Homo sapiens: one gene and its partners. The protein of the gene in region 2 purifies or fractionates together with the protein of the main gene of each other region. This does not show direct contact. Each region holds a gene or a part of one and is shown on either strand. Other genes may lie near its edges. The genes, in order: CLNS1A, FARP2, CCDC88A and PRKCI.

Region 1 (7,029 bases), on a different chromosome or scaffold from region 2:
TCAGGCTCAGAGAAATGCAAATGACTTGCCTAGCAAGTTAATGACAGAGTTCTTACTTTTTTTTCTTTTCTTCGACCGTTTTGCTCTGTTGCCCAGGCTGGAGTGCAGTGGCGCGATCTCAGCTCACTGCAACCTCCACCTCCCGGGTTCAAGTGATTCTCATGTCTCAGCCTCCCGAGTAGCTGGGATTACAGGCACCCGCCACCACGCCCAGCTAATTTTTGTATTTTTAGTAGAGACAGGGTTTCACCATGTTGGCCAGGATGGTCTCGATCTCTTGACCTTGTGATCTGCCCCCCTTGGCCTCCCAAAGTGTTGGGATTACAGGTTTGAGCCACTGTGCCCGGCCTAATGACAGAGTTTTCTTATTCAATGTGCTTTTGCCCTTAGGCTAGTATTTATTAAATGCTATTTCCTAAGCCTTTCTCTTGGCATGTACCTTTCCCACCTCCAATGGCCGTCACTATTTGGGGCCATTTCACACCAGCATCTGGAGTTGACTGACAAGAGCAAGGTTTCGCATTTCTGCAAATGAATGAATGCTTTAAACTAAACATGACACATAATATTCTTGGTTATAAAATCATAGTTGCATTTACTTAGATGGAGAGTAAATTTTGTGCCAAATGCCTTATTAGGAAGTCTTACTACACTACTACACCCCAAGGTTAACAGCCTTTTACTTTTCCTCATCCTCTTTTTCAAACTTCACTAGATTTTTAAATGTCTTTGAACCTTTTCCAATGGCAAGAATTTGAAATCTTATAACAAAAATATTTTCAGATAGCTGAATCAGTCATTACCACTTAATGAGGCAGGTCTTGCCAAAAGTCCTAAGAATTACTAAATAGTTTCACACCTGAATATAAATGATCATATTATATCTGGAACCATATTAAAATCTAAATTTGAAAGAGCAATAGCCTTGTAGGTAACTTCATAGGATTGTCTCTTACACACTACTTCAAAGAAAAGCAACCCGTTATTTTAAACATGAGCATCTTCACTAGACTTTTACAAGTCTTTGCAATTATCCCAAAGCAAAACTTGAGAATCTTTATATCCTACAGTTTCTCAACCTTGGCACTACTGACATTTGGATGGAATAATTCTTTGTTGTGGGGGACCATCTGTGCATAGCAGAATATTTAGTATAATAATAGCATCCTTGGCATCTAACTGCTAGACACCAATAATACCCTTCCTCTTTCAACCAAAATGTCACTGCCAAATGTGGGGGAATGGTGAGGTTGGTGGAGGCCCATGGAAAATATATCCCCCCTACAACCACTGAGACCCACTACTGAAACAAAACAAAACAGTTCTATCTTAAATTATGAGAAGCACAGGGTATACTGATCCAAGCCCCTAAGGGTGCCTTTTAAAAAGAGAAAGGCAGAATAAACAGTGAAACTTTAGAGGAAAAGCTAGAAATACATATCCATAATAAATGAAGAATTCTAAGTGTAAATATAGAGAAATATATACAGACACACATGAACATCCATTGTGAAAACTTCAAGTGTCCAAGTTGCTGTGCTGAAATTTTGCTTAATAAACTACTACCCAAAATGAGTCAATGGCCTCAATGTTACATTGATTATTATCAAAGACTCTTTTTTTTCTTTTTTTTTTTTTAGACGGAGTCTCACTTTGTCGCCCAGGCTGGAGTGCAGTGGCATGATCTCGGCTCACTACAAGCTCCACCTCCCAGGTTCACACCATTCTCCTGCCTCAGTCTCCTGAGTAGCTGGGACTACAGGCGCCCACCACCACGCCTGGCTAATTTTTTGTATTTTTTAGTAGAGACGGGTTTTCACCGTATTAGCCAGGATGGTCTCGATCTCCTGACCTTGTGATCCGCCCGCCTCGGCCTCCCAGAGTGCTGGGATTACAGGCGTGAGCCACCGTGCCCGGCCTCAAAGACTCTTTTTTAAAATATAATTTGCTATCAAAGGAGGCATTAGATTAAATTACACCATACATACCTTCAAATTTGGCATTCACCATAACATACAAATGCTCTCCTAGACAGTCACTTCGGTCCCTGGATAATGCATGTAAACTAATGGTGGGGTATTCCAGTGAGAATCCTAATCCAGAGCCATCTAACCAAGACAGGCGGCTGAAAAACATGTTTTAAGTAGATTATTTTTAGAAAGTAAATCCTCATGTAAGACCACAAAGTATATAAAAGTTCAGCTTGGACACCTTTATGCATATAAATAAATTCAAGTTTACTTTTTTAGAAACGTTCATAAAATAAGAAAATTCAGTAGTGGAAACTGAGTTTTCTTTAAGATCAATTCTGTTACGGTCTCTTTCCCTCTAGCTATAAATTCAAACAGACTTGAAATTCCATTTTCCTCAGTCACATGTATGTTTCTATGACTTTCATGCTTACTCTTTTTTGGTATGTCTTCAAATACCCTCTTTGCTTTTGCAAATCCTCCCCTCTTCCATGAGGCCTCCCTTCAACTACACCAGTCCATAAAGATCTCTTCCTTTTCTGATTTGCAAATTTTAGCACTTAACTCTGTGGTAATGAGTCTTATATGTGCCCTTATGGAATGTGAACTATCGGACAGCAGAACTTGTCACATTCCTTTATTAACATCCTTCAAAACCGTTAACAAAGAGCTCAGGAGTTAAGTATGCAATAAATCCTTGGTAATCATGCATTTCTCCATGAATCCTACACTAAAAGACATATATATGAAATGGCTGTAATCACACTCACCGCAAGTCAGGAAATAATTATTACCCTGAGAGACAGATTCCCTGAAGCCTTTCATTTATTCAACGTCTTTAAGAGAAAGCCACAGAAAAGCTAGATCTAGTTTTCCCTCAAATGTGGTCAAATGCAAATATTTTATTGGTGTAACAAAGGAAACACATCACCAAAATCAGTATTTTGAGCTTTCAGTAGAGGCTAGCTAATTTTCTGATAATACTTCATCCATCTGGAGCTGTACCACTTAGCAGAAAAAAAGTAAAAAATCCTGAAGAAGTCAAAAAAAAAATGTTAATGCAATATAGTGGTTGCCTAGGGCTAGAAGGAAATAGGGAATGTCTGCTACTGGGTACCAGGTTCTTTTTGGGGTGAAGAAAATATTCTAAAATGGTGGTGATAATTGCACAATTCTGTAAACAGACTAAAAACTAGTGAATTGTATGTTTAAATGGTTAAACTGTATGCTATATGAATTATTTTTAAAAGTTAATGAAGTAAGACCCCTGTATCATTCTATATTCTATACAATTTTAACAAGCCTGGCTGTCTAATTTCTAACCAAGCAAAAACAAAAGTAAAACAGGAGAACCTAGGACTGCCTTGGGCAGGAACAATGACAGTGTGACAGTCTGAGATCACTCATGTTCAGTGGAAGGGGAGGATGAACTTTCCACCTCAGTTCCCCTAAATGAAATCAATGTCTAACCACATGACCCTCAGTTACCGAAAGCATTACCAAAAACAAAGGCAGATTATTAGATTGTGGTGATAACTGTACAACTCTGTAAATATACTAAAACTTACGTAATTGTATACTTTTTTTTTTTTTTTTAGACAGAGTCTCGGTCTGTCGCCCAGGCTGGAGTGCAGTGGCGGATCTCGGCTCGCTGCAAGCTCCGCCTCTCGGGTTCACGCCATTCTCTTGCCTCAGCCTCCCCAGTAGCTGGGACTACAGGCGCCCGCCACCACACCCGGCTAATTTTTTGTATTTTTAGAGACGGGGTTTCACCGTGTTAGCCAGGATGGTCTGGATCTCCTGACCTCGTGATCCACCCGCCTCGGCCTCCCAAAGTGCTGGGATTATAGGCATGAGCCACCACACCCTGCCCCTAATTGTATACTTTCAAAAGGCAAAAGTAAGAATATATGCACTGTCATGTGGAAAGATTTCTATCCAACATTCTTATTAAAAAAAAAAAAGTAAAGGAAAACTAGGAAGCTTATAAGTGATAAATCTTTGTTTTTTTGAGATGAAGTCTCACTCTGTCACCCAGGCTGGAGTGCAGTAGCATGATCTTGGCTCACTGCAATCTCCACCTCCAGGGTTCAGGCGATTCTCCTGCCTCAGCCTCCCAAGTAGCTGGGATTACAAGCGTGTGACACCACGCCTCGCTAATTTTTGTATTTTTAATAGAGATGGGGTTTTGCCATGACGGCCAGGCTGGTCTCAAACTCCCGACCTCAGGTGATCTGCCACCTCGGCCTCCCAAAGTGCCAGTATTACAGGCGTGAGCCACTGCGCCTGGCCTAAAAGTGATAAATCTTAAAGAGCTAAAAGTGATAAAACCTCTACAAATTGTTTTCCAGAACAACTCATTCCTACTGGTTCCAAAGAAACATTGTATTATGTAATGAGGTTATGTGCTGTATGCATCTTTCCTGCCCACTGCTTTCCTTTTAATGTGGAGAGGAAATAATGCCCAAGTATCACGAGTCCCCTACAAAAGCTGTATTATTTTAAAGCAAATAAACTGCCCTTTTCTGATCTCAAAAATTTTCTGGCGTTATCACAATTCAGAAAGAAACATTCCAAATTTGGGTGTCCAAAATAATTTCAAATATCCAGAGCCATAAAACTTGAATGACTCAATGACGACATGGAAAAACTGAAACCTAAACATAGAATGAGTGCCTATCAAATTATGGCCTTCACTTTTAAAAGCCATCATAATACCTCTGTAATTCCTTACTAGTGCAGAGAGAATACAAATGCTCCTCTGCACAGCATTTGCTATGGAACTCTCATAATCTTTTACATGAACTGGGATTATGCATTCTATAGGACAGAAGCCAAGTTCCACACTTAAAAACACTTATTCTAATCGTTAAATTCTTTTTTTTTTAAATAAAAAAAGAAAAGAAACCCTAGGTTTCTGTATTTTACTTTTTCAGATTTACAAATGCAAATCATATATTAATATTCACAGATATTTTTAAATGGGAAAACAACTTACTTTCAACAACTTATTTTTTCCAACAGCATGTTACTATGTTAAAAAAGATTTGACATTATAAGCCGAGCGTGGTGGCTCAGGCCTATAATTTTGGGAGCATTTTGGGAGGCCGAGGTGGATGGATCACCTGAGGTCAGGAGTTCCAGACCAGACTACCAACATGGCGAAACCCTGTCTCTATTAAAAATACGAAAATTAGCTGGGTGTGGTGGCAGGCACCTGTAATCCCAGCTACTTGGGAGGCTGAGGCAGGAGAATTGGTTGAATCCAGGAGGCGGAGGTTGCAGTGAACCAAGATCACGCTACCACACTCAAGCCTGGGCAACGGGGAGACTCCATCTCAAAAAAAAAAAAAAAAAAAAAGAGATTTGACAGTACATTCATTTAATCTGGCAATTTTAATTTGAACAAATACCTATTAACAACAAATTAAATCCTATTGCACATGAATTATTTGTTGCACCACCACCAGATTTTCTAATTCTAGCAGAGGCCACGATGAAATAGGCCAGACATGCTGCCATTAAAGTTTGCTGGGATGATTGTAATAAATCTACTGAAAGTATTCAAGTTCTAACTTTCAAAGTGATGTAGAGAAACATAAAAGATTTCACTGTATCATCTAAAAATATAACTGTTTTGTCTGATCATTAAATTCTGATTTGCATTTACTCTTTGTATATATTCTAGAAGAAATCCTTCTAAAACATTTAATTAATCATACCCAGTTCCAAAGAAACCGTGAGTCAAAAGGGAAAGACAAGAAGAATTAGACACAGAGTAAACATGTAGAGAACATGTTTTGCTGAATTCAAATGCTTTTGCACAAGTATGGTGAGTGTCCTTTATTCCCAGCACGGGATGAAAAACAGGACAGGAAGCTAAGAGAGGTCTTGAATTTGGGTTAACTTAATTATTTGGTTTAAGATTAATTTTGGAATGAGATACAAAAAAAAAATTTTAAGTTTAAATTACCTAATTTTAATTTGATTACCTATTTTACCTGTTTTAAACTGTCTATTTTATATTATTCATGCCTCTGTATCTTCCTTATTTGGATAAAAATTCAACTTCCTGGCCGGGTGCAGTGGCTAACACCTATAATCCCAGCATCTTGGGAGGCCGAGGCAGATGGATCATCTAAGTTCGGGAGTTTGAGACAAGTCTGACCAACATGGAGAAATCCCATCTCTGCTAAAAATACAAAATTAGCCAGGCATGGTGGTGCATGCCTGTTAATCCCAGCTACTCGGGAGGGTGAGGCAAAAGAATAGCTTGAACTCAGGAGGCGGAGGTTGCGGTGAGCCAAGATTGCGCCATTGCATTCCAGCCTGGGCAACAAGAGTGAAACTTCATCTCAAAAAAAAAAAAAAATTCAACTTCCTATAAAAAACTAAGCTCTGAAATAAGCCGGAGATTCTAAATCTTTCAACACAAATCTGAGAGACTAAACCAAGTCCAGCCAAACCTAATCTGTTGCTGTCCCTCTCTGCCTCAAACTAAATAGTTTCACCAAAGCCTAAAGGCTATAAGCCAAATTTATGAACATGACTCTCTCCTTCTCCAGCTTTATCATCTCTGGGCATTCTCCCTCACTCCCTCAGATGAAGAACGGCTGGACTGTATATATATGTACACAGTATGTGTGTGTATTTATACCCTTTTTTTGTATTTATGTTTCACACACAAAAAAATTATTTTGGCCGGGCACGGTGGCTCATGCCTGTAATCCCAGCACTTTGGGAGGCCAAGGTGGGTGGATCATGAGGTCAGGAATTTGAGACCAGCCTGGCCAACATGGTGAAACCCCGTCTCTACTAAAAATACAAAAATTAGCTGGGCGTGGTGGAGCACGTCTGTAGTCCCAGCTACTCAGGAGGCTGAGGCAGGAGAATCGCTTAAACCCGGGAGGCGGAGCTTGCAGTGAGCCAAGGTCGCGCCACTGCACTCCAGCCTGGGCGACAGAACAAGACTCTGTCTCAAAAAAAAAAAAAAAAAAAAAATCTTAAAGAAGAAACATAAGAGATTTGTTTGTGAAAAGCTGAAACAAATAATGTTTAA
Region 2 (6,839 bases):
GCATCCTACAACATTATAGGGCCTTTTTGTTTTTGAATTTTAAAATGGCAATAAGCTAAAACACCAGTTTAGGGGAAAACAATTCATGACTCTTAAAATAAAACCACTTACAACACTCTAACTACCCTCCTGATCCTGTTCACCTCCTCATGTATTTTTACAACACTATGATTGCTGTGTACACACCATTTCAACTTTTCAGTTAAGTCACATTTTAAAGCATATTTCCATGGATCAAAATGGTTCAAATTTTCCTTGGATGGGAGGATGGGATTCAGCTTGTGGAAGCATGTTTACTTGCTATGGAGTACTCTACCCTACTGACACAACAAAGTTTATCAGATTGTTTTGAAAAGTGTGATTCCAAAATCAAAATCTTTGCCACATACTGCTACTTTCCAAAAAGATTAGACCAATTTATAGAATCACTGTCAACTAAACGCTCCCCAGAAAATCACCAAAGACTGGGCTTTATCATATTGCTTTGTAGGATCCTCAACTTTTCAACTCCCTGTGGCATTGACAAATACGCTATGGTCAAAGGACTCTATATTCTGATCTCAGAGAACATGACCGGAATTACCTCAGCTCAGTATCCAACACTACAATGGGGTTTTGCCTGTATATCTAGCACTATGCTGTGTTTATGAAGCTCATGACGCACTGAGTAAAGGGGAAGCTGGCAAGCTGATATGAAAGTGGGTGAAGGAAAAATAAGAACAAAACTGAAAGGACAAGCAGCAGTAAGAAAAATCTGTTACTGTCCGAATATAGAAGAGGTATTGATGTGACTAGAAGCAGGGGTGTTTGGAAAGGAAGGAAGCAACTGAATTCTTTGGGCCAAATGGATTTAAATGAGCTCACATGGAATTGCCCATGCATTGATCTTTGCTTTGGCAATCCAGTTCATACCATTCCCTCTAAACAGGATAAATTTGCTTAATTATTGCCTAATTTTTTCTCTACTGTTTTTTGTAAATATCCAGGGTTAGCTTGTTCTACTTTCTACTCGGATTATTTGTCCACCTGATAATAATAATGGCTAACATTTATTAAGCACTTACCTTGTGCCAGGCATCTTGTTAACACAGCTTTTTTTATTTATTTTTTTATTTTTTTGAGACAGAGTCTCGCTCTGTCGCCCAGGATGAAGTGCAGTGGCACAATCTTGGCTCAATGCAACCTCCACCTCCTGGGTTCAAGTGATTCTCGTGCCTCAGCCTCTCAAGTAGCTATGATTACAGGCGTGCGCCACCAGCCCAGCTAATTTTTGTATTTTTAGTAGAGATGGGGTTTCGCCCTGTTGAGCAGGCTGGTCTGGAACCCCTGAGCTCATGCAATCTGCCTGCCTCGGCCTCCCAAAGTGCTGGGATTACAGCCACTGTGCCTGGCCAAGTAAATTTTAAACTCATTTTTTGAATAAGGAACCTGAGGCAGAGAGAAATGAATACACCTTATATCAACTTCCTCTTTGGGAAAGGAATTAGTATACAAGGAACCTGGAAATTTACTAACGACTGATAGTCCTATAGGTAAATAAGCCAGCAAACGTCTGCAGTCCAGGAAACTGCATCATCAGCATTTAGTTTGTTAACAGTGAACCACCTAATGAGAATCTGCAACAAGGATAGGGCACATGAGAAGTACAGATGGTATTTGCAAGTACCCTAGGTGTGACCCTAAACTGGTCATTCCACCTCTCTCAACCTCCCTTTCCTCTACTTTAAAACGGGGCTGTGCAACTTGGTCATGTCTCTGAAGAGTTTTGGAAAACTGAATAAATAACGAGCATGAAGTGCTTCCTAAACCTTTAAGGACCTCAAAAAACAAAACAAAACAAAACTTTCAACAAGCAGATGTAGAAAATTTAAATTATATTTGGCCTACAAGTAAAGGTTACTCCATGCTTCCCTACCTCAAATGTCCTCTCCCATCTCTCTGGTACTGAGAAAATCTGTGTCGCCTGTTATAAGGCAGTCTACACAAGACCAACACGCTAACCCACTGCCACCTCAGGGTTATCAAACATTTACACAGTGGCCCAGACAAAAATATCCCACGGAAACAAAACAAAAACAAAAACCCAGAGAGAAAAACCACCCTTTAAAGATTTGGCCTTGGGTTTTAAATTTGCCCATCCCTTTTTAACACTATGTATTGACAATCTTTCCTTCAATGATGCCTTGTTCTAATTTCTGCTTTTCACATCCATTAATGGCACATGATAGGCCAGGGGTTGCTGCCATAGCGTAAACGGAAAAGGTGCCCGTAATTCGGGTGTGTAATGTACTGGGCCATATTCTGGTCCCCAGTTTTCATGGGTTTCCCAAAGGCTACCCACTGGCTTATGAGTATTTCTAGCCCTTAGTGGAGTAAAAATATTAACACCTAACACTTGATTCCCACCTTTAAGATACAATTTAAAGAAATGCTAAAAAGGCAAACGGCTCAAAATGCCTCCACCAGGCACCTCCAGGCCCATACCCTGCGGGTCCCTATGGCCCACTCTGGGGTGTCCTTCCGGGATGGGACACTCCCCGGCCCACGGCCCTGCCGGCCTCCACGGGGCACAACTCAACCCGCGAGTCCACGCGGGACACTCCCCGGTCTACAGCCCCACCGGCCTCCTCCACGCGGCACCCCTCAACCCGGGAGTCCACGCGGGCCACTCCCCGGCCCACCGCCCCGCCTGCCCCCACGCGGCAGGCTCCCTACAGACGGACGCTCCTCTAACCCGGACCCGCCTAGGAGCTCCAGCCGCCTCACGATGGCCTTCAGAGGCCGGGCGGGACCATCTCTGGTGGACCGCGGCCTCAGCGCCCCCCCCGCCTGGGCCTCTCGCCTCGGGCCTCGGGCTTCGCCGCCCACCCGGAGAGGCCCACCCCTGCCCCACGCGCCCAGGCCGCTTCACGTCCTCACCCTCGGCCTCTCGCTCGCCCGCCGCGTCCTCACCGGCCTCGCCCGGCCTCCGCAGTCGCAAGCAGCAGCCGCCAGACTCGCGTCGGCGTCGCCTGCTCCCAACTGCCCGCCGGCAGCCCCCGCGCAGCGCGCCCCGCCCTGACCCCGCCCCCGCGACGCGGACGCGCAGTCGATTGGCCTGCGGGGCGCCAGGGCGGAGCCTTCCCGTCCCGCGGCCTGAAAGCGCAAGATCGAGTTCTGATTGGTGAACGGACGGAGAAGGGGCGGGAGCAGGCAGGCAGCTGCGTAGGATATAAATCTGTGCAGCGCTCGGCTCGTTGGGCGGGGCGTCGGCTTGCTGAGCGAGGCAATGTCCTAGGCGAAGCCAAGGCTCGCTGGGCGGGGCTAGATCTTGGGCGGGGAGTCGGCTCGTTGGGTGGGGCTAGGTCCTGGGCGGGGAGTCGGCTCGCTGGGCGGGGCTAGGTCCTGGGCGGGGAGTCGGCTCGCTGGGCGGGGCTAGGTCCTGGGCGGGGAGTCGGCTCGCTGGGCGGGGCTAGGTCCTGGGCGGGGAGTCGGCTCGCTGGGCGGGGCTAGGTCCTGGGCGGGGAGTCGGCTCGCTGGGCGGGGCTAGGTCCTGGGCGGGGAGTCGGCTCGCTGGGCGGGGCTAGGTCCTGGGCGGGGAGTCGGCTCGCTGGGCGGGGCTAGGTCCTGGGCGGGGAGTCGGCTCGCTGGGCGGGGCTAGGTCCTGGGCGGGGAGTCGGCTCGCTGGGCGGGGCTAGGTCCTGGGCGGGGAGTCGGCTCGCTGGGCGGGGCTAGGTCTTGGGCGAGGTCTAGGCTCGCTGGGCGCGGATAGGTGCTGGGCGAGGCCTAGGCTTGCTGGGCGCGGATAGGTGCTGGGCGAGGCCTAGGCTTGCTGGGCGCGGATAGGTGCTGGGCGAGGCCTGGCTCGCTGGGCGGGGATAGGTCTTGGCCCGGGCCTTGCCGGCTGTCCTTGCACCCTTTGGCTCAGTCCCTGGCTGCCAGCCTCCTCCTTCCTCCAACGCATTGCATCCCTCGTGGGACTACAGGGACCGAAGGGGATCATCGAAGGATCGCGCGAGGCTGTGCTAAGGCTGAGACAGGCTGCTCCGTGGTGGCGGCCAGGACGGCCTTCCTCTGGCCTAGGGACCCCCACCCGAGAATGGAAGACTGACTTGCTGTGGCACACTTCCCTTCTCTTGAGAAGTTCATTGAACTCCTATGTGTTCTTCAAGACCCTACCCATCGTGCTCTCCTAGCCCGGCCCTGTCACCCACTGTCACCATGTGGCTGTTGAGGGAATAATTAACTTCAGGAAACACCCGGGCACTTAAGAGACTCCTCCTATGGTGCTGTGGATTCCAGAGTGAAACCTGACCCTTCGTTTCCCAGAAGCCCAGACAGGAGAAATGCTGGCTCAGGGGAACCTCCATTTCTCCTGAGACAACTATGGGGTCTGAGACCCAGGCACACCAAGACTGGGCTCAGCTGTGCGGGATGCTCCCCTCATGTGCCACCCACCTCTGGGGCTTTTCCTTTAACCAACCCCCAATGACACCACCAGGCCCAGAGTGGTGCACACACCCCAGAACAGAGGATCCCTGCCTGCAGACGGGCAGGGCCGGGTGGGGATAGTGCAGGTGAGAGCCTGGCCAGAGGGTGGTACTGACCCCTGGTAGGATGCAGGGTGTGTGCTGGTGACCTGAGGCTGGCAGTCTGGAGGGAAGGCAGCAGGCGTGGCAGCTGTCAGCTGAGGAACTAGAGAGAGCAAGTTTCAGTATCCAGGGGTCTGTCTATAAGGAAGCTCAGAAAACACTGATAGCAAGGTAAAAGGGGCCCAAGGTGGTCCTGGGATGATCAGTCCAGTGGGCAGGAAGAAGGCTAGAGGCCTTGGAGTGTAGGTGTCCAGCCACCCAGATCAATTCAGGTTTCCAGTTTCCTTTACTCAAGTGGCAGAGCCGCCTTAGCCTATTCTTGAAAATTTATAGGTTAGAAATTTCTTCCTAGATATATTTCAATCATTCACTTATATTTCCAGTAATTTAGTAGTTGCTATTATCAATGCGATTTCTTTTCTCACTACATTTTCTAATTAGAAAATAGATATCACTGACTTCTTAGTGTTAATTTTCACCAGATGTCTTGTACTTTCTAAGTAGATGTTCTGATCACCTGTAAATAATTCCTTTCCAATCTTTTGTGCTTTCTTTTGGGCTGGATCTCCAATACGTACAAACTTGTCCAGTACTGACACTATTGATTCAAGTAATTTTTCTTGATTTTATACAAAGATGTTGTCAAGACTTTGAATTTTCCCAGAAAACCTCACAACTTTCCCTTGCAAATAACCAAGAGAAATACTCATTTAATATCTAAACAATAGTGCTTTATTGATAAAAGGTTAGTTTAAATGGATACAAAATTGCTGTGTAAAATAAGTGTTTTCAAAATACATTTCTATAGGTAGAGACTATGTCTTAGTAAAAGAGCAGTTATCTATTATCAAAAGTATCTATTTAGATTTGGGTAGTAAAACCAAAGGGGATCAGAAGTGTAGCAGTGTGGGTCCTCCCTCCCTGCATAGCTGTTACCAGGAGGCAGCGTGCCTGAAGTACTTTCACTCACATATGCGGGGCTTAGTCACTAGCAAACTTGTTTTTCTTTTTTACAGATTTTCCAGCAAAGTTATTAAATGTCAAACTCAAATAATGGACTCCGCATGGATGTACTCTGAAGTCATGGAACACCACTTCTTAGTTACCTTCACACAATAAGCCATAACATATAGCTTTTGGCTGTTCACAATTAAGCAACAGTGAAGGGCAAAGTTAGCAAGAACACCAGATTATTTTCTGTAGCACACCTTCATTAACTATTATTATTTAACTGCCTCATTTTATGTTTTTTCTAGCCCCCACAAAAATGAAAAAACCCTGTCTCATCCTCAGATTAAGCATTTTCTCCATCTCCCTACACAACCATTGTCTCCTTTCATCTGTCAATTTCTGGGGTTGAATTTCCCAACTTCAGTAGAAATGATAAAAAAGGCAACCGCTGGAGTGTACCATAAGGAGACACAAGAAGAAAGGTGACACTAAGGCTACAGTGCACAGAAAACAGACCAGGTGTGGCTTCGACTGTGCGGACCTGCCCACTAGCCTATGCTACAGATTTGAAATGTCTTTCACTTTGACATGACACACGGTTTATATTACACAAAATGAATGAAACGACAATGGCTAAAAATAAATGAGACAGCCTGCACACAAAAAGATGATGACTGCTACTTTCCTCCCATCAGAAAATTACTCAAAAAGGGAGTATTTAAAGGAAACTCAAATCAGGAGAACCCGGTAGGCATCAGAGGTTCAGGGCACCAAGGCCTTAGGGCGGGAACACTTTTCAACCCAAGCCAGGCTTCAGGGGCACGCCCACCAACAGACCCCAATTTCCACAGGGGAGGCAGATCTTCTATACCTACAGTGACAGAAAATACACTAAAGTGCAGTATAAAATATAAAAAGGTTTGATTCTGAATAGACCAACTGCTAATTTTCCTTAAAAAAATTTTTAATTTGGTTGAGTAAAAACCAAATTAGTTCACTGAATCTCATTTTGTAGGTAAGAGTCTTATTTGCAATACGAAAACTGGAGCTTATGACTGCTTTGATTTTCTCTGTAGCACAGGATAACCAGTATTAGTGGAGAACACTACAAAAGGTGGCTTGTGGTGAGTTCTTTGCATAGTGGTTTTAAAAACAACCTAGCATCAGAATTAAGAGACTTCTTTAAAACTCACCTCTAAAAAAGCTGTTTAAGTATAAAGATATATCTCATTAGGAAATTCTATTATGTTTTATTTGGTTAACAGATAAAATCGCAGACGAATCAACAGTATAGAATTATAGCAGCAAAACTGGTTT
Region 3 (7,029 bases), about 190 Mb from region 2:
GTTCTTGGAGTACTTCTTTAAACACTTAACCTTAAAACACCTGGTCCTTAGTGAGAGAACGTCCTTTATTCAGTAGATCTTAACAGTACAAGGTATAGTAAGTCCTAAAACCTTTAAAAAATTTTGGCAGTTGAATCCAGTAGTGCTCCTTGATTCAAGGAATGAAGGTTTGTATTTCTTGCCTGCTCTATTCACGAAGGACTGTTAAAAGTCTCCTTAAAGATTTTTAAAAATGATTCCTATAGTTGCTAGGTGTCTTGTTACTTCAGAAATAAAGGCTTCATACTGAGAAACTGAAGGACACTTTTCTCTCTGTATTTAGTTGGAAGGTAGAAAGAAGAAAGAAAATATAAGAAAAGCTTAAAGATAAGAGAGACACAAAATACAGAGCAGCCACTATAAGAACAGCATGCACCAGGTATTTCTATAAGAATGAGAATGACAGACAATCAGAGATAATTTTTGAGTGGCTCATCATAGAATAGGCATTTAGTCATTAATTTTCAAGAAAACTGTGGGGAAGTTGTATTCCTACCACAAAAGGCTTCAAACTAAAAAAGTAATTCCTAGAACATAATTCACTAGTAAAATTAAATTTAAAGTGACAAAAAAACTTAAAAAAAAATACTTGTTCCTTGCGCTGACAGGTAAAAACCTATGGCAGCCAACTAATCTTGCTTCACTAGTAAGTAGAACAGAAAGTCAATGAATTAAGCAAGCAATATTTACATCTGTTAATGCAATGTGCACTTGTTTCACACTTAATTTGGTTAGTTTGTATAAATGAGACTAATCTCATTTACATTTTAAGCAGGAAACTCACCACTTGGCCCACATGTCATGTAGTGGGTAATAGAATTAGGAGCTTTGTTGCTCCCTAGACCTGCTTTTTGAATTTCTGCTTTCTTGTACTTTGTCCACATCTGCAGGAGAAAAGCATTTCATGTTATTTAGTCAAAGATGAAACAAAATACAATTCAGAAGATAAGAAATACACTCTCACTGAGTAGGGCAAGGAGAAGGAATCTGTAACTGTCTGGGAAAATTATTAATCTCATAGGCATCTCAATACTTAAAGATCGATTTTTATATTTTAAAGCTATAAGTAATATTCCTAGGAAAGCTATAATTTTTAAAAAAACTATAACAATTACATTTCCCCCCCTCTTAGTGCCAGATAGCCTTACTATGTTTATTTACTAAATGGTCACCTACAGTCTTAAACATAATCTTGCATGTAGTAGCAAAACCATCTGGAATGAAGTATTTGTATTATTTACTAAGAAAACCAGGGCTTGATGCATATTTTATAGGCAAATAATGTTCCTCCTTACATTGGTTAAAGCTAAAATTGCTTTGGTCAAAGGGGATGCAGTGCATAAGAATATGTTTATAATTTCTAGAAAGCTAGGCCAGGAATACTGAAAGCTATCCAGCTTCATCATTTATAAAATTAGGGTACTGAATCTTCGAATAGTTTTACAAATAATCCTTTTGAAAACTGGAGGTGTCTTAGAGGAAATAAGTGCAATTGCTCAATTGAGTCAGAGTTGTTTCACTTTTACTTTAAATGAAATTCATTTTTTAAAATTTGGGGCATCTATGTAAGATTTCACTTACAGAAAGTATTGTTTTTTTTCTTAAATGTTTGGGACACATCGGTTCCATATGATTTCTAAGGTATTTTCACCACTAAAAATTTGATTCCAAATGCTATGAAAAAACGTTGATAAGAACTAGTGTTGTGGCCAGTCGCAGTGGCTCACGCCTGTAATCCCAGCACTTTGGGAAGCTGGTCAGGAGTTGGAGACTAGCTTGGCCAACATGGTGAAACACCGTCTCTACTAAAAATACAAAAATTTGCTGGGCGTGGTGGCATGCTCCTGTAATCCCAGCTGCTTGGGAGGCTGAGGCAGGAGAATTGCCTGAATCCAGGAGGCAGAGGTTTCAGTGAGATGATATCACGCCACTGTACTCCAGCCTAGGCTACAGAGTGAGATTCCATCTCAAACAAACAAACAAAAAGAACTAGTGGTGTTTTGGGGGGAATTTTATGACTCCACAGCAGGTGATGATTTCTGAAGTCCAGACTGTATTTTCCAACAGTCCTCAGGACACATGGACATGATACATATTTCTCTTATATGCACAGTGTATTTTTTTTTTTTTTGGAAACATGCTGCATATAAACATATAGCTTTTTGGGTAGGAAATAGTTCTTTTCTGTAAGTCTAATTTTGTAAAATAATCACATAATTTTAATATAATAGCATGTGATTTTTCAATGAATTTTGAATGAATAAATACAATATTTTGAAGTGTTATGGTCAGAATTATGATATCTAAAAAGTTGAAATAGCTGTGAAATAATCTTTGACTCAGTGTGGAAAAGAAATAACACTAATTATAACATTTGTGTCATATACTGCCCCCATTTAATCTCAGCTATGTTTACTATTAAGTTTTGTTACTGGCCTATGAAAAAACAAAAGGGAAAATATTAGCACCAAATATATTTGAAATGTCAGGACTGACTGGGAAGTAACTGACAATAAAATAGAAGGATGCAAAAAGTATATTAGGTGGTACTAAAATATGACAATCCTCTGATTGTGTTCATTTGATTACCTGTACCAGAACCATTTTTTTTTTTTTTTGTAATAGCTATCGGAAAAAAAGTGTGATTACAAAGGAGACAAATTTCATTAGGAAATATTCTCTACAGATTTTTTCTTTGGTCCAGTTAATAACCACTTAATACAACAACAACAACAACAAGTATAACATAATTTCATCCCCACATGGTCACATTTGAAGGCATTCCTTCCAGGTGCCAGGCTGAGTCCTTATCAGCTATAGGCTAAATCCAAATGGCAAAAAACATTCCAGAGAGAATGCCAATGTGTATTTCTCTGGAAGTAAATGGATCAGGGTTATGGGTTTTTTTGTTTTTAGCAATCTGGGAGTTAGAGATTCAAATTTAGCTAATTTGCTTTAAAAGTGCTGTGAACACAAAAATAAAAGTTCTTTGCACTGGAGTCAAAGTTAACAAATATTTTCTTACTTTTTTTTTTTTTTTTAAGCTAAAGAGTGTATTTATTCTTAGTTCTAAAATTTGTTCTACTAGAAACATACTTGTTTAAATGGTTACAAGTTCTAATTTTACATTTTAGTGTGATTATTCATTTAAAAAAAATTCTGTTTTAAGGATATACATGTATAATTTAATAATAGATTAATTATAGAAGTAACAATTTTTACCACTTTGTAAACTTGCTACCCTTTTTGATTAGAAGTAAAAATACAAATTTCCAACACAATGAATATAATTTGGTTTATTTCTCTTTGACTCTCTATAAAAAAAGAACTGGAAAAACTATTGTATTAACTGATTTCAAGTATAGAAGCCATCTTGAAGAAAAGACAGTTACTTGAGCTCTTGTATTTATCAGATGATGAAAAGTGCAGAGAAGAAACAATAAATACAAATGTTCCTAGTCACTGTGTAAATCACATTTAAATTTGATGGGGTTTTCTAAGAATAACACTAAGTTTATAAGTATTAACAATCTTTTAAATCTGAAAAATGTTTTATAAATATGGGTATTAGTTAATATTTGTTATATAAAGTGTTGAATTATTAACTATTTCTTTAAAACAGGACAGATGGCCTAATTAAATGACAAAAGAAAACAACATCTTTTTACATTTTCCCTACTGATACTGTACATATGTAATATAAAGTACACATTCTGGAAGAAAAAAAGGAGTGACAGTCAGAGCAAGTGAGGGGTGGGAAGAGGAGGAAGGGAGGGAGGAAATGAACATTTTTTTCCAGAAGCAACAAAGCAAATATGACTTGGAAATGTCTTCTTGGTAAGAGAGCATGCAACTGTTTTAACATGCTTCTGGATATCAAAGTAACAATCTTATCAGGCAACAAAAAATGTGAAGGAGGAGCATGTATGGTTAAGGTTTTTAAAGGCATGCAGAAAATGGACAAAGTAATTAATATTTCATGCAGGTTTTGGTGTGGTTACACATTCACATTAATATACATGCCATCATGTACAGCTGAACACTGTGCAACAATTTTAAATAAAAAATAAAAACCTAGCCAAATGATATTTTGTTAACAGCAACTTTTCAAATCATATTAGAGAAGCAGTGTATATCAAATAACATCAATATATTATATTGTGCAGTTTTGATCATATACAACCATATTCATACCAAACAGTTTGATTATCCTCAGAAACCAACAATGCAGCTTCTGTGTCATCAGGATAGAGGCATGCAGAAGTGACAAGATTGTTGCTATTTATAGAAAACTGTAGGTTACTGTTACTAGGGTTCTGATGATCAGAAAACTGTTCATTTTCTTTCTGTGCAGGTTTATCCAAAGAGGCAGAAGCCTGGTCAGTTATTCTGATAACTGGCCTAGGAGGTAACCCACTTATGTTACTAACTAATTCTGTATTCAGGGATAAGAATGGCTGAGATGAATGGGCCACAGTAAATGGTCCTATGCTATCTTTTGCCAACATTCCGAATGCATCACTAGGCATCCTAATAGTGGCAAAAGTTTGGTTTAGAAAATGTGACCTTCCTGTTCTTGAGTTTCTAGCCTGGGCATATAGAGGCTCAGGCATGTCTATAGCTAAATCATTTTGGGCACAAGAACCTATAGTATGTGTTGGGATGTCAAGTATATGAGAGGACCACTGGTGTAAATGGTACTCACTAGATGCTGCAGTGGTGTTGCTGTCAGCAGCAGCTGGTGGTGAATCAACTGATATAGGCAGTCTACTGTCCTTGGTCAAAAAATCATGGATGCTTGTCCTTCGTGTAGTTCCTTCGGCAGTTGAGATCACGCTGCTTGCACGAGGTAAAGTTGCATAAGGGTTACTATCTTTTGATTGTCGTGACAGAGAAGATTCTTTTACTAATTTTATTTTTCCTTGAGTGCCTGGTGTAGGTTTTCCCGCAGAACTAATGAAGTAGGTATCTTCAGTTTTTCGAGGACCAGGTCTCAAAAACTCAGGCTTAGTTGTCCGTCTATCATAGAAGTCCCCTGGGGTTTTTCCACTTACTGACCTGGCCAGACCACAGCTAACTGGTTTGTCTTTTCCCAAAAAGTCAGAAGAGACAGACAAACTTTTCATTACTTCATCTAAAAGATTCTCTTGACTTGAGGACTTTATCTGTTTAAAAAAAAATTCAAAGCAGATTAGTGAATATAGTGCCATGTTTTTACTTTCCTGATTTAGCAGACTGTGCAATATAAAATTGTGGTACCTCTTAATACTCCTTAACTTACCAAAAAAAAAAAGCTCTGAAGTTCAATTACAGAAATTTAACTTGTGGTGTTCATCTAAATTAAGGTCATCATAGATAAAACTAACCTGTACTGAGGTAAGCTTATTGCTTTCTTCCAAAAACTGTTGTAGAGTAACAACTTCACTTCCAGGGGAACCAGTTTTGATCTTGTGATGTCGACTCTCCAGTGTTTCAGATATTTTGTGCTGGAGCACTGGGCTTGATCTGGTCTGTCTTTTCAAGTACTGGATTGGACTGCTACCACTGCTGGACCAAGCCTCATGGTCATGAAGCAGGCTAAATTCTCCACTGCTGTGGCTTTGTGGCCTGCTTTGGTTATTAACTGCACCTGCTTTTGGAGTAAATGGGGTGTTGAGATTTCAATAATAGAATTGAGATTAATACTTCATGAGTAATAACATTTGTTGACTGTGTGCTAATTATATGAACAGCCAAATTTACTTTCAAGCTTTATTTAGAAATGCTTAGTAAACCATGTCAATCTTTTATCAGTCTAACAATTGTCTGCCATAGCCTGCTTCCTTATTTTGTCAAACTGACAACTATTGTAAGCTCCATAAGGGCAAAGACTTGCTTTTACTATCATACTCAGAGCCTAAACAGAGCCTCATACAAAGCATTCAATATATTTTTTGAGTAAATGAATGAATAAATAAGTGAATAATATATTTTTTAAAATTCAGGTTCAAATAGTTATAAAATGCCTTGCAGGCCAGGCGTGGTGGCTCACGCCTGTAATCCCAACACTTTGGAAGGCCGAAGCAGGCGGATCACGAGGTCAGGAGTTGGAGACCAGCGTGGCCAATATGGAGAAACCCCGTCTCTACTAAAAATACAAAAAATTTGCCAGGCGTGCTGGTGCACGCCTGTAGTCCCAGCTACTCAGGAGGCTGAGGCAGGAGAATTGCTTGATACTGGGGGGGTGGAGGTTGCAGTGAGCAGAGATCGCGCCACTGCACTCTGGCCTGAGACTCTGTCTCAACAATAAAAATAAATAAAATAAAATGCCTCACAATTTAGGATAAGAACATGATTAGACAAAATATATATATATATTTCATCTAATGTGTATTTTTATATATATTATATATAATATATATAATTTATATATAATTATATATAAATATATAATATATAATATATAAATTTATATATTATATATAAATATATATAATATATATTATATATAAATATATATTATATATAAATATACATATGTGTGTATTTTTTTTTTTTGAGATGGGGTCTCACTGTGTCACCCAGGCTGGAATGCAGTGGCACGATCTCAGCTCACTACAACCCCCGCCTCCTGGGTTCAAGTGATTCTCTTGCCTCTGCCTCCCAAGTAGCTGGGATTACAGGCATGCGCCCCCATGCCAGGCTAATTTTTGTACTTTTAGTAGAGACGGGGCTTCACCATGTTGGCCAGGTTGGTCTGTAACTCCTGACCTCAGGTGATCTGCCCACCTCGGCCTCACAAAGTGCTGGGATTACAGGTGTGAGCCACCGCACCTGGCTCATTAGGTGAATTTTATATTATTTCAGTATGTTAAGACCAAAAACTGTTCTAAATGCAGAAAATTCTATTTTAATTATTTGCTTATCTAAGAAGTCCTCATTACTACTTGAAGGCTTCTCTGTTCATCCTGCATGGATAACTTTAAACATTTAAAAAAATTTAAAGAGCAT
Region 4 (7,029 bases), on a different chromosome or scaffold from region 2:
ACTATGTCATTGCACTCTAGCCTGGGTGATGGAGGAAGACACTGACTCAAAAAATGAAAAATAAATGAAAATAAATGAGTGCAGCCAGGCAAGGTGGCTCATGCCATAATCCCAGCACTTTGAAAGGCCAATGTGGGAGGATCGCTTCGGTACAGGAGTTCGAGGCCTGCCTGGGCAACACAGGGAGACCTTGTCTCTACAAAAAAATTAAAAATTAGCCAGACATAGTGGTGTGTGCCTACAGTCCCAACTACTTGGGAGGCTGAGGTAGGAGGACTGCGTGAGCCTGGGCAGTTAAGGCTGCAGTGAGCTGTGATTACACCACTGTACTCAGCCTGGGTGACAGAGTAGAAATGTGCCTCAAAAAAAAAAAAAGTGCAAAATACTTATCATGGTTCTTTTTCTTTTGTTCCACTTTTTTCAGTTGAGTTTTTTTTGAGACAGAGTCTCGCTCTGTCACCCAGGTTGAAGTGCAGTGGCACAATTACAGGCGTGAGCCACCACACTCGGCCTCAGTAACATTTCTGAATAACACTAACTTTAATTCTTTAAAAGCTTTTTTCTTTAATTGACAGAAATTTTTCTATTATATTTCACTAAGATAAGAGATTATTACTATAATTCAATACTGTCTAGAAAATTCTAGCCTATGGCTAAAAATAAATAAGGCTGGGCGCAGTGGCTCACACCTGTAATCCTAGCACTTTGGGAGGCCAAGGTGGGTGGATTACCTGAGGTCAGGCGTTCGAGACCAGTCTGGCCAACATGGCGAATCCCCATCTCTACTAAAACTACAAAAATTAGCCAGGTGTGGTGGTGCACGCCTGTAATCCTAGCTACTCAGGAGGCTGAGGCAGGAGAATCACTTGAACTTGGGACGCGGAGGTTGCAGTGAGCCGAGATCACGCCACTACACTCCAGCCTGGGCGACAGAGTGAGACTCTGTCTCAAAAAACATAAAATAAATAATAAATAAATAAATAAGATATAGAAAAGAAGAGGCAAAATTGCTACTTGCAGATGACATTATCTAGCTTAAAAATTCTAAGACAGTTAAATTATTAGTAAGGTGGAAAGTTTAATTTAAACATACAAAAAGAAAACAGTATGTAATAGGTCTACAAGAAGACCCCATTCACAAAAGCACATGATTATAAAATATATAGGAATAGGCCGGGCACGGTGGCTCAAGCCTGTAATCTCAACACTCCGGGAGGCCGAGGCAGATGGATCACCTGAGGTAAGGAGTTCCAGACCAGCCTGGCCAACATGGTGAAACCCCATTTTCACTAAAAATACAAAAATTAGCCAGGCATGGTAGCGCCTTGCCTGTAATCCCAGCTACTTGAGAGACTGAGACTGGAGAATCGCTTGAACCTGGGAGGCGGAGGTTGCAGTGAGCCAAGATCACGCCACTGCGCTCCAGCCTGGGTGACAGTGCAAGGCTCCATCTCAAAAAAAAAAAAAACAAAAAAAAAAAATTAAATAATGAATCAAGCCATTCCATAACATATATCAAAGTTAACTATAATATTACAATAATTAAACCAATAGTGGTATGTGCAAAAATAGATCTCTCCCCTAAAATCAATGAAACAATAGAAAGTACCTACGCACATTGTGGGAAATTTAGTACATAACAGAGTTACCATTTCAAATCAGTGGTGAAAGGACAATCTGCCCAATAATGGTATTAGAATAAATTTTGGAGAAAAAAAAAGTTGTGTCAGTACCCTATAAATGACTAAACCCCAAAATACCAGATTCACTGAAAAGATAATCACTTTAAAAGTTTCATAATAAGCCAGGCGCAGTGGCTCACGCCTAAAATCCCAGCACTTCGGGAGGCCACAGCGGGTGAATCACTTGAGGTCACGAGTTTGGGACCAGCCTGGCCAACATGGCAAAACCCTGTCTCTACTAAAAATAAAAAATTAGCCGGACATGGTGGCGCATGCCTGTAATCCCAGCTACTTGGGAGGCTGAGGCAGGAGAATCACTTCAACCCAGGAGGCAGAGGCTGCAGTGAGCCAGGATCGTGCCACTGCACTCCAGCCTGGGCGACTGAGCAAGACCTTGTCTCAAAAAACAAACAAAAATTAGCCGGGTGTTGTGGCGTGCGCCTATAATCCCAGCTACTTAGGAGGCTGAGGCAGGAGGATTGTTAGAACCCAGGAGGCAAAGGTTGCAGTAAGACGAGATCACGCCACTGGGTTCTACCCTGGGCAACAAAGCAAGACTCTGTCTCAAAAAAAAAAAAAAAAAAGTTGCATAATAGAAGAAAAATAGAATATTTTTAGATGAAAAACACTTTTACCTAAGACAGTAAATCCAGAAACTATCAAGGAAATTTTTAAAAAGGACAGGTTTGATGACATAAAAACGAAAAACTCCAGACTAGCAACAGATTGGGGAAATGCTGGCAACTTTAACAAAATGTCAATGTCCTGTCAACAAATTAATAAGAAAAATAATACAATAGAAAATGGGTAAAATAGGAACAATCCAGAAGAAATACAAATGATCATTAATATATAAAAGATACTTGTAAAAATAAATTACCATTTTTTGCCAATCTGACAGTCAAAAATTTAAAAGACAGATAACATGCAATGGGAATATAAGGCAGAAGCTTCACTAGTCCTGTTGTTAAGAATGTAAATTAAGCTCTTTTGGGAAACAATATCATATTTCAAGATAGGCATATCTTTGACCATATTTACAAGAATATGTATTAAATATAAGGAGGTTCCTTCAACATTATTTGAAATAGTGAGTTGATGAAGACAACTTTAAATGTTCATCAATCCGAAAAAAGATTAAACATATTATGGTGGCTGGGCGCAATGGCTCATGCCTGTAATTTCTACACTTTGAGAGGCCGAGGCAGGAGAATCACTTGAGCACAGGAGCTTGAGACCAGCCCCGTCCCTACAAAACATATTAAAAAAAATTAGCTGAGCCTAGTGGCGTGAGCTAATCCTAGCTACTCAGGAGGCTGAGGTGGGAGGACTGCTTGAACCCAGAGTGGTTGAGGCTGCAGAGGGCCTAGATCATGCCACTGCACTCCAGCGTAGGCAACAGAATCAGACTCTGTCTCTTAAAACAACAACAACAACTGTAGAACACTGTATTACCAACTATAAAGAGGTCTGTCTACCCTGGAATGAAAAGATGACCACGATTTTTAAAATCAAGTTGCAGATGCATGTGTGGAAATATGAACTCATTTATTGGAAAAATAAAAGGGTATGTCTGTGTGTGTGTATGCACATACATATCTATACTTATAAATATACCGATATGATATAGAATATCCCTAACTGTTAACAATGGCTATCTCTAGAAAGTGGGAGTGAGACAGCCATAAAAAATAATGAAATCACGTCTTCTACACCAGCATGGATGGAACTGAAGGCCATTATCCCTAGTCAAAAAAATCAGAAACAAAAAGCCAGATACCACATATTCTCACTTATAAGTGAGAGCTAAACAAAGGGTACACATGGACATAAAGAGGGAATAGTAGACATTGGAGACTACAAAAGGTGGGAGGGGGGTGAGGGTTGAAAAATACCTATCGGGTACAGGTAATTTTCTGGGTTTTACTGTTTACTGTTCCGGTGATGGGTACACTAAGTGACCAGACTTCATGGCTACATGATACAAACATGTAAGAAAGAAAGAAATCTGCACTTGTACCCTTTAAATATATAAAAATAAACTAATAAAATAAAATAAGGTGGGAGTGAGAGACTACAGGGGAACTTTATATGTGTGTGTATGTATATGTGTGTGTGTGTGTGTGTGTGTGTATATATATATATATTTGTGTGTGTGTATGTCTGTGTGTGTGTGAGACAGGGTCTCACTCTGTTGCCCAGGCTGGAGTGCAGTGGTGCAATCACAGCTCACTGCAGCCTTGACTTCCTGGCCTCAGGTGATTCTCCCACCTCGCCCTCCTAGTAGCTAGGACTACAGGCTAATTTTTTTGTAGAGATAGGGTTTCACCACATTCAGCCCAGGCTGGTCTCCAATTCCTGGGCTCAAGTGATTCACCTGCCCTGACCTCCCAAAGTGCTGGGATTACAGGCATGAACCACCATACCCAGCCTCTTTCTGTATTTCTATATTTTTAAAATTTAGTTTTAGTGCCTTGCCTTTGTGATCTGTATTTGGCCACTGGTGTCATTTTTGTTTCTATTATCGTTCTCAGCCACATTCCTACATAGGTTAGCTGTCAAGCACAGTGCTTGCAACACAGAGTAGACAGACAATAAATAATTGCTCCATTCTTTCTGACATTTCCTCCTGAATGCCTCATAAACACCTAGAACTCAAAATTCAGTGAATTGTTCCAGCCAATTAATTAACTTCTCCCACAAATCTCTTCCACATTCCCCAGTCTCTCTTAAACGAGAAACCTATGAGTTGTCCAACTCCCGTCACCCCTACAAGACTATCTTTAATTCTACTGATACTACCCCTTAAAATTTCCACCGAATCCATACACTCTTTTCTCTCTCCTTAAAATATCTCATCTGGACTACTTCAAAAGCCTCCAAATTAGTTTCATCCATCACCAATCCATCTCCCATACTAATTTCAAGTGTTATCTTTCTAAAATGCAAATCTGATCATGTATTTCTCTTACTTAGAATTTTCATCAATGAGAAAAAGTCTAAACTCTGCAGTATGACATTCAAGGGTCTTTACAATCTAGCCCCTGTGAACTTTCTTAGCCTCATTTCTCATCAGTGCCCACTTCATACTTTATATCCTAATAAGGAATGAATATGAGACTAACAGCCAAAGTGATCTTAATTCTGCAAACTTACCATGTGGTTGTTTAATGCCTATAACACCCACCTAACATCATTATTCACCAGGCAAACTCCTAGTTATCCTTTAAAAGCCTCAGACATTTCCTCTAGGAAGGCTTCCATCACCCCAAACTCCTCCCCAACGTCTATTCCTGCAAATACCTTACATAGGTACTTCAAATTAAATTGTTTCTATTGTAACTCTTATATGTCCTTCCCTCCACAAGTCTCTTAATTCCTTAAAGGCAGAGCCTTACCTACCTCTACATTCTCTGTGCCTACGACAGCATCATGTGCCTGGATTACGGACGTTCAACAATATTTACTAAACTCAGTTTGAATGATCTCTGGTTATATTTGAAATCTTAAGCAAGACTGGAATTTTTAAAATCTATGTTTAAATTAGGCTCATTTCAATCATAAAAAAAACAGACACTAAAGTTGTAAAAGGAGGGCTGCAGTTGCATTAGAAAGCCATCATGAACTAAGGACCTGTGGGGAGAATTTTTCTGTGCAGAGTTGCTCCTTTCTCCTTTGCTTCCTCAGTTTCTGCTTCTTCACATCTTTCATTTGCACATTGTCAGTTCTGGCCTCGCCAGACTCTCCCTCCAACTCCAGCTTCAGTTCCCAGTGCTGACCAATTTTATCTCCATATTTTCTCATTCAAATTTCTGAGGGTTTTTTGTGTTTGGTTTGGGTTTTTTGGCACCAGGCTAGCATGCTCTATTTTTTTCTCTCTTTGGCCAAGCTATGGATCAGCTGCCCTAGGATTAGGTGCCATGGCTGAAGCTCTAAGACCAATTAGCTAACATCCCCCCAACCCTCAAGATACCACTTGTATTTCCTCAGAACCATTACTAAAGTATATTGCTAAAATAATCTTGCATTTCTTTCAAAAACAAGTCTTGCCAAGACTTGTTCACAGTAAGAAAAATCCTACATACTTCTTCACTGAAGCAGCTATTCCAAATATGCAAAGAGTTAATCTTTTATTTCTAGATGTGCACAGAAGGAATCCTCTGTATTGTTATTACTACTTGACAGCAGCGGTTTAAAAAGAACTTTCACAAGCTTTCTGCAAAAATTTCCATACATATATAATGTAAAGAAATGAGCAGTCCAGATGTTGCCTTGTTAAAGTCTATCCCATAATAGCAAGTAATTTTATATAAGGATAAGCACATACATTGACAGTTTATCACTAATTAATGAAACCTGTTTCTCTTCCTCCAAACTACTAGCACTAGGTAATAACTGAAGGCCCCTCACTGAAAAGCTTCCTTGCTAGGAAAAGACGGGTGCAGGCCATGAGAAAGGCATCTAAGTAAGATGTGGTGTCCAATAAAATTGAATTTTCAGTGCTATTAATCTCTTGCTTAAAAACTAGATGTAAATTGGCTGGGCAAGATGGCTCATTCCTGTAATCCCAACACTTTGGGAGACCGAGGTGGGTGGATCACTTGAGGTCAGAAGTTGGGAGACCAACCTGGCCAACATGGTGAAAACCCGTCTCTACTAAAATACAAAAATTAGCTGGGCGTGGTGGTGGGCGCCTGTAGTCCCACCTACTCGGGAGGCAGCCGCAGGAGAATCCCTTGAACCTGGGAGGCGGAGGTTGCAATGAGCCGAGATCACGCCACTGCACTCCAGCCCAGGTGACAGAGCGAGACTCCATCTCCAAAAAAATAAATAAATAAAATAAAATAAAATAAAAATTAGAAAAAAATTAAATGTTATTAGATCTAGAGAGATTACACGTTTTCACTGAGATCAAGCTTAACAGAATAATAACACTATACACATCTTTGAAAAGAGAGGGCAATTTTTTCACTAAAAAAAATGCTGGCTATTAAATGAGTCAACATTCACTGGAAAGAAATATTGTTAGAAAAGGGTAGTGGAGCCAGGTACAGTGGCTCACACCTGTAATCCCAGCACTTTGAGAGGCTGAGGCAGGAGGATCACTTGAGCCCAGGAGTTTGGGATTAGCCTGGGCAACACGGTGAGACCTTGTCTCTATTTAAAAAAAAAAAAAAGAAAAGAAAAGTGTAGAGGGATAGAGGAAATGCTATGTAATAATGGCCCTTCAGAAGATTGGAGAGAAAAGAAAACTTTTTCAAATGCAGAATGTTCTCACATTTCTTGGTATAAAGGAAGGATTTTCTATTTTAAAATCAGGTAGGTGTTCTAGTTAGCCAACCTGTTT

Evidence for each region.
Region 1: the proteins of FARP2 (region 2) and CLNS1A purify together in Homo sapiens (affinity purification with mass spectrometry; 3 studies listed by BioGRID and IntAct, with this or other methods). This does not show direct contact.
Region 3: the proteins of FARP2 (region 2) and CCDC88A purify together in Homo sapiens (affinity purification with mass spectrometry; 2 studies listed by BioGRID and IntAct, with this or other methods). This does not show direct contact.
Region 4: the proteins of FARP2 (region 2) and PRKCI purify together in Homo sapiens (affinity purification with mass spectrometry; 2 studies listed by BioGRID and IntAct, with this or other methods). This does not show direct contact.

What each region holds. Positions count from the first base shown.
Region 1 is NC_000011.10:77,627,775-77,634,803, forward strand, and holds part of CLNS1A (methylosome subunit pICln), read right to left. Parts: intron 2,126-7,029; coding exon 1,989-2,125; intron 1-1,988. UniProt on the Homo sapiens protein: Involved in both the assembly of spliceosomal snRNPs and the methylation of Sm proteins.
Region 2 is NC_000002.12:241,352,469-241,359,307, reverse strand, and holds the start of FARP2 (FERM, ARHGEF and pleckstrin domain-containing protein 2), read right to left. Parts: upstream 3,024-6,839; 5' UTR 2,920-3,023; intron 1-2,919. UniProt on the Homo sapiens protein: Functions as a guanine nucleotide exchange factor that activates RAC1. May have relatively low activity. Plays a role in the response to class 3 semaphorins and remodeling of the actin cytoskeleton.
Region 3 is NC_000002.12:55,290,853-55,297,881, forward strand, and holds part of CCDC88A (girdin), read right to left. Parts: intron 5,672-7,029; coding exon 5,406-5,671; intron 5,205-5,405; coding exon 4,745-5,204; intron 924-4,744; coding exon 859-923; 3' UTR 824-858; intron 313-823; 3' UTR 1-312. UniProt on the Homo sapiens protein: Bifunctional modulator of guanine nucleotide-binding proteins (G proteins). Acts as a non-receptor guanine nucleotide exchange factor which binds to and activates guanine nucleotide-binding protein G(i) alpha subunits.
Region 4 is NC_000003.12:170,225,403-170,232,431, reverse strand, and holds part of PRKCI (protein kinase C iota type), read right to left. Parts: intron 1-7,029.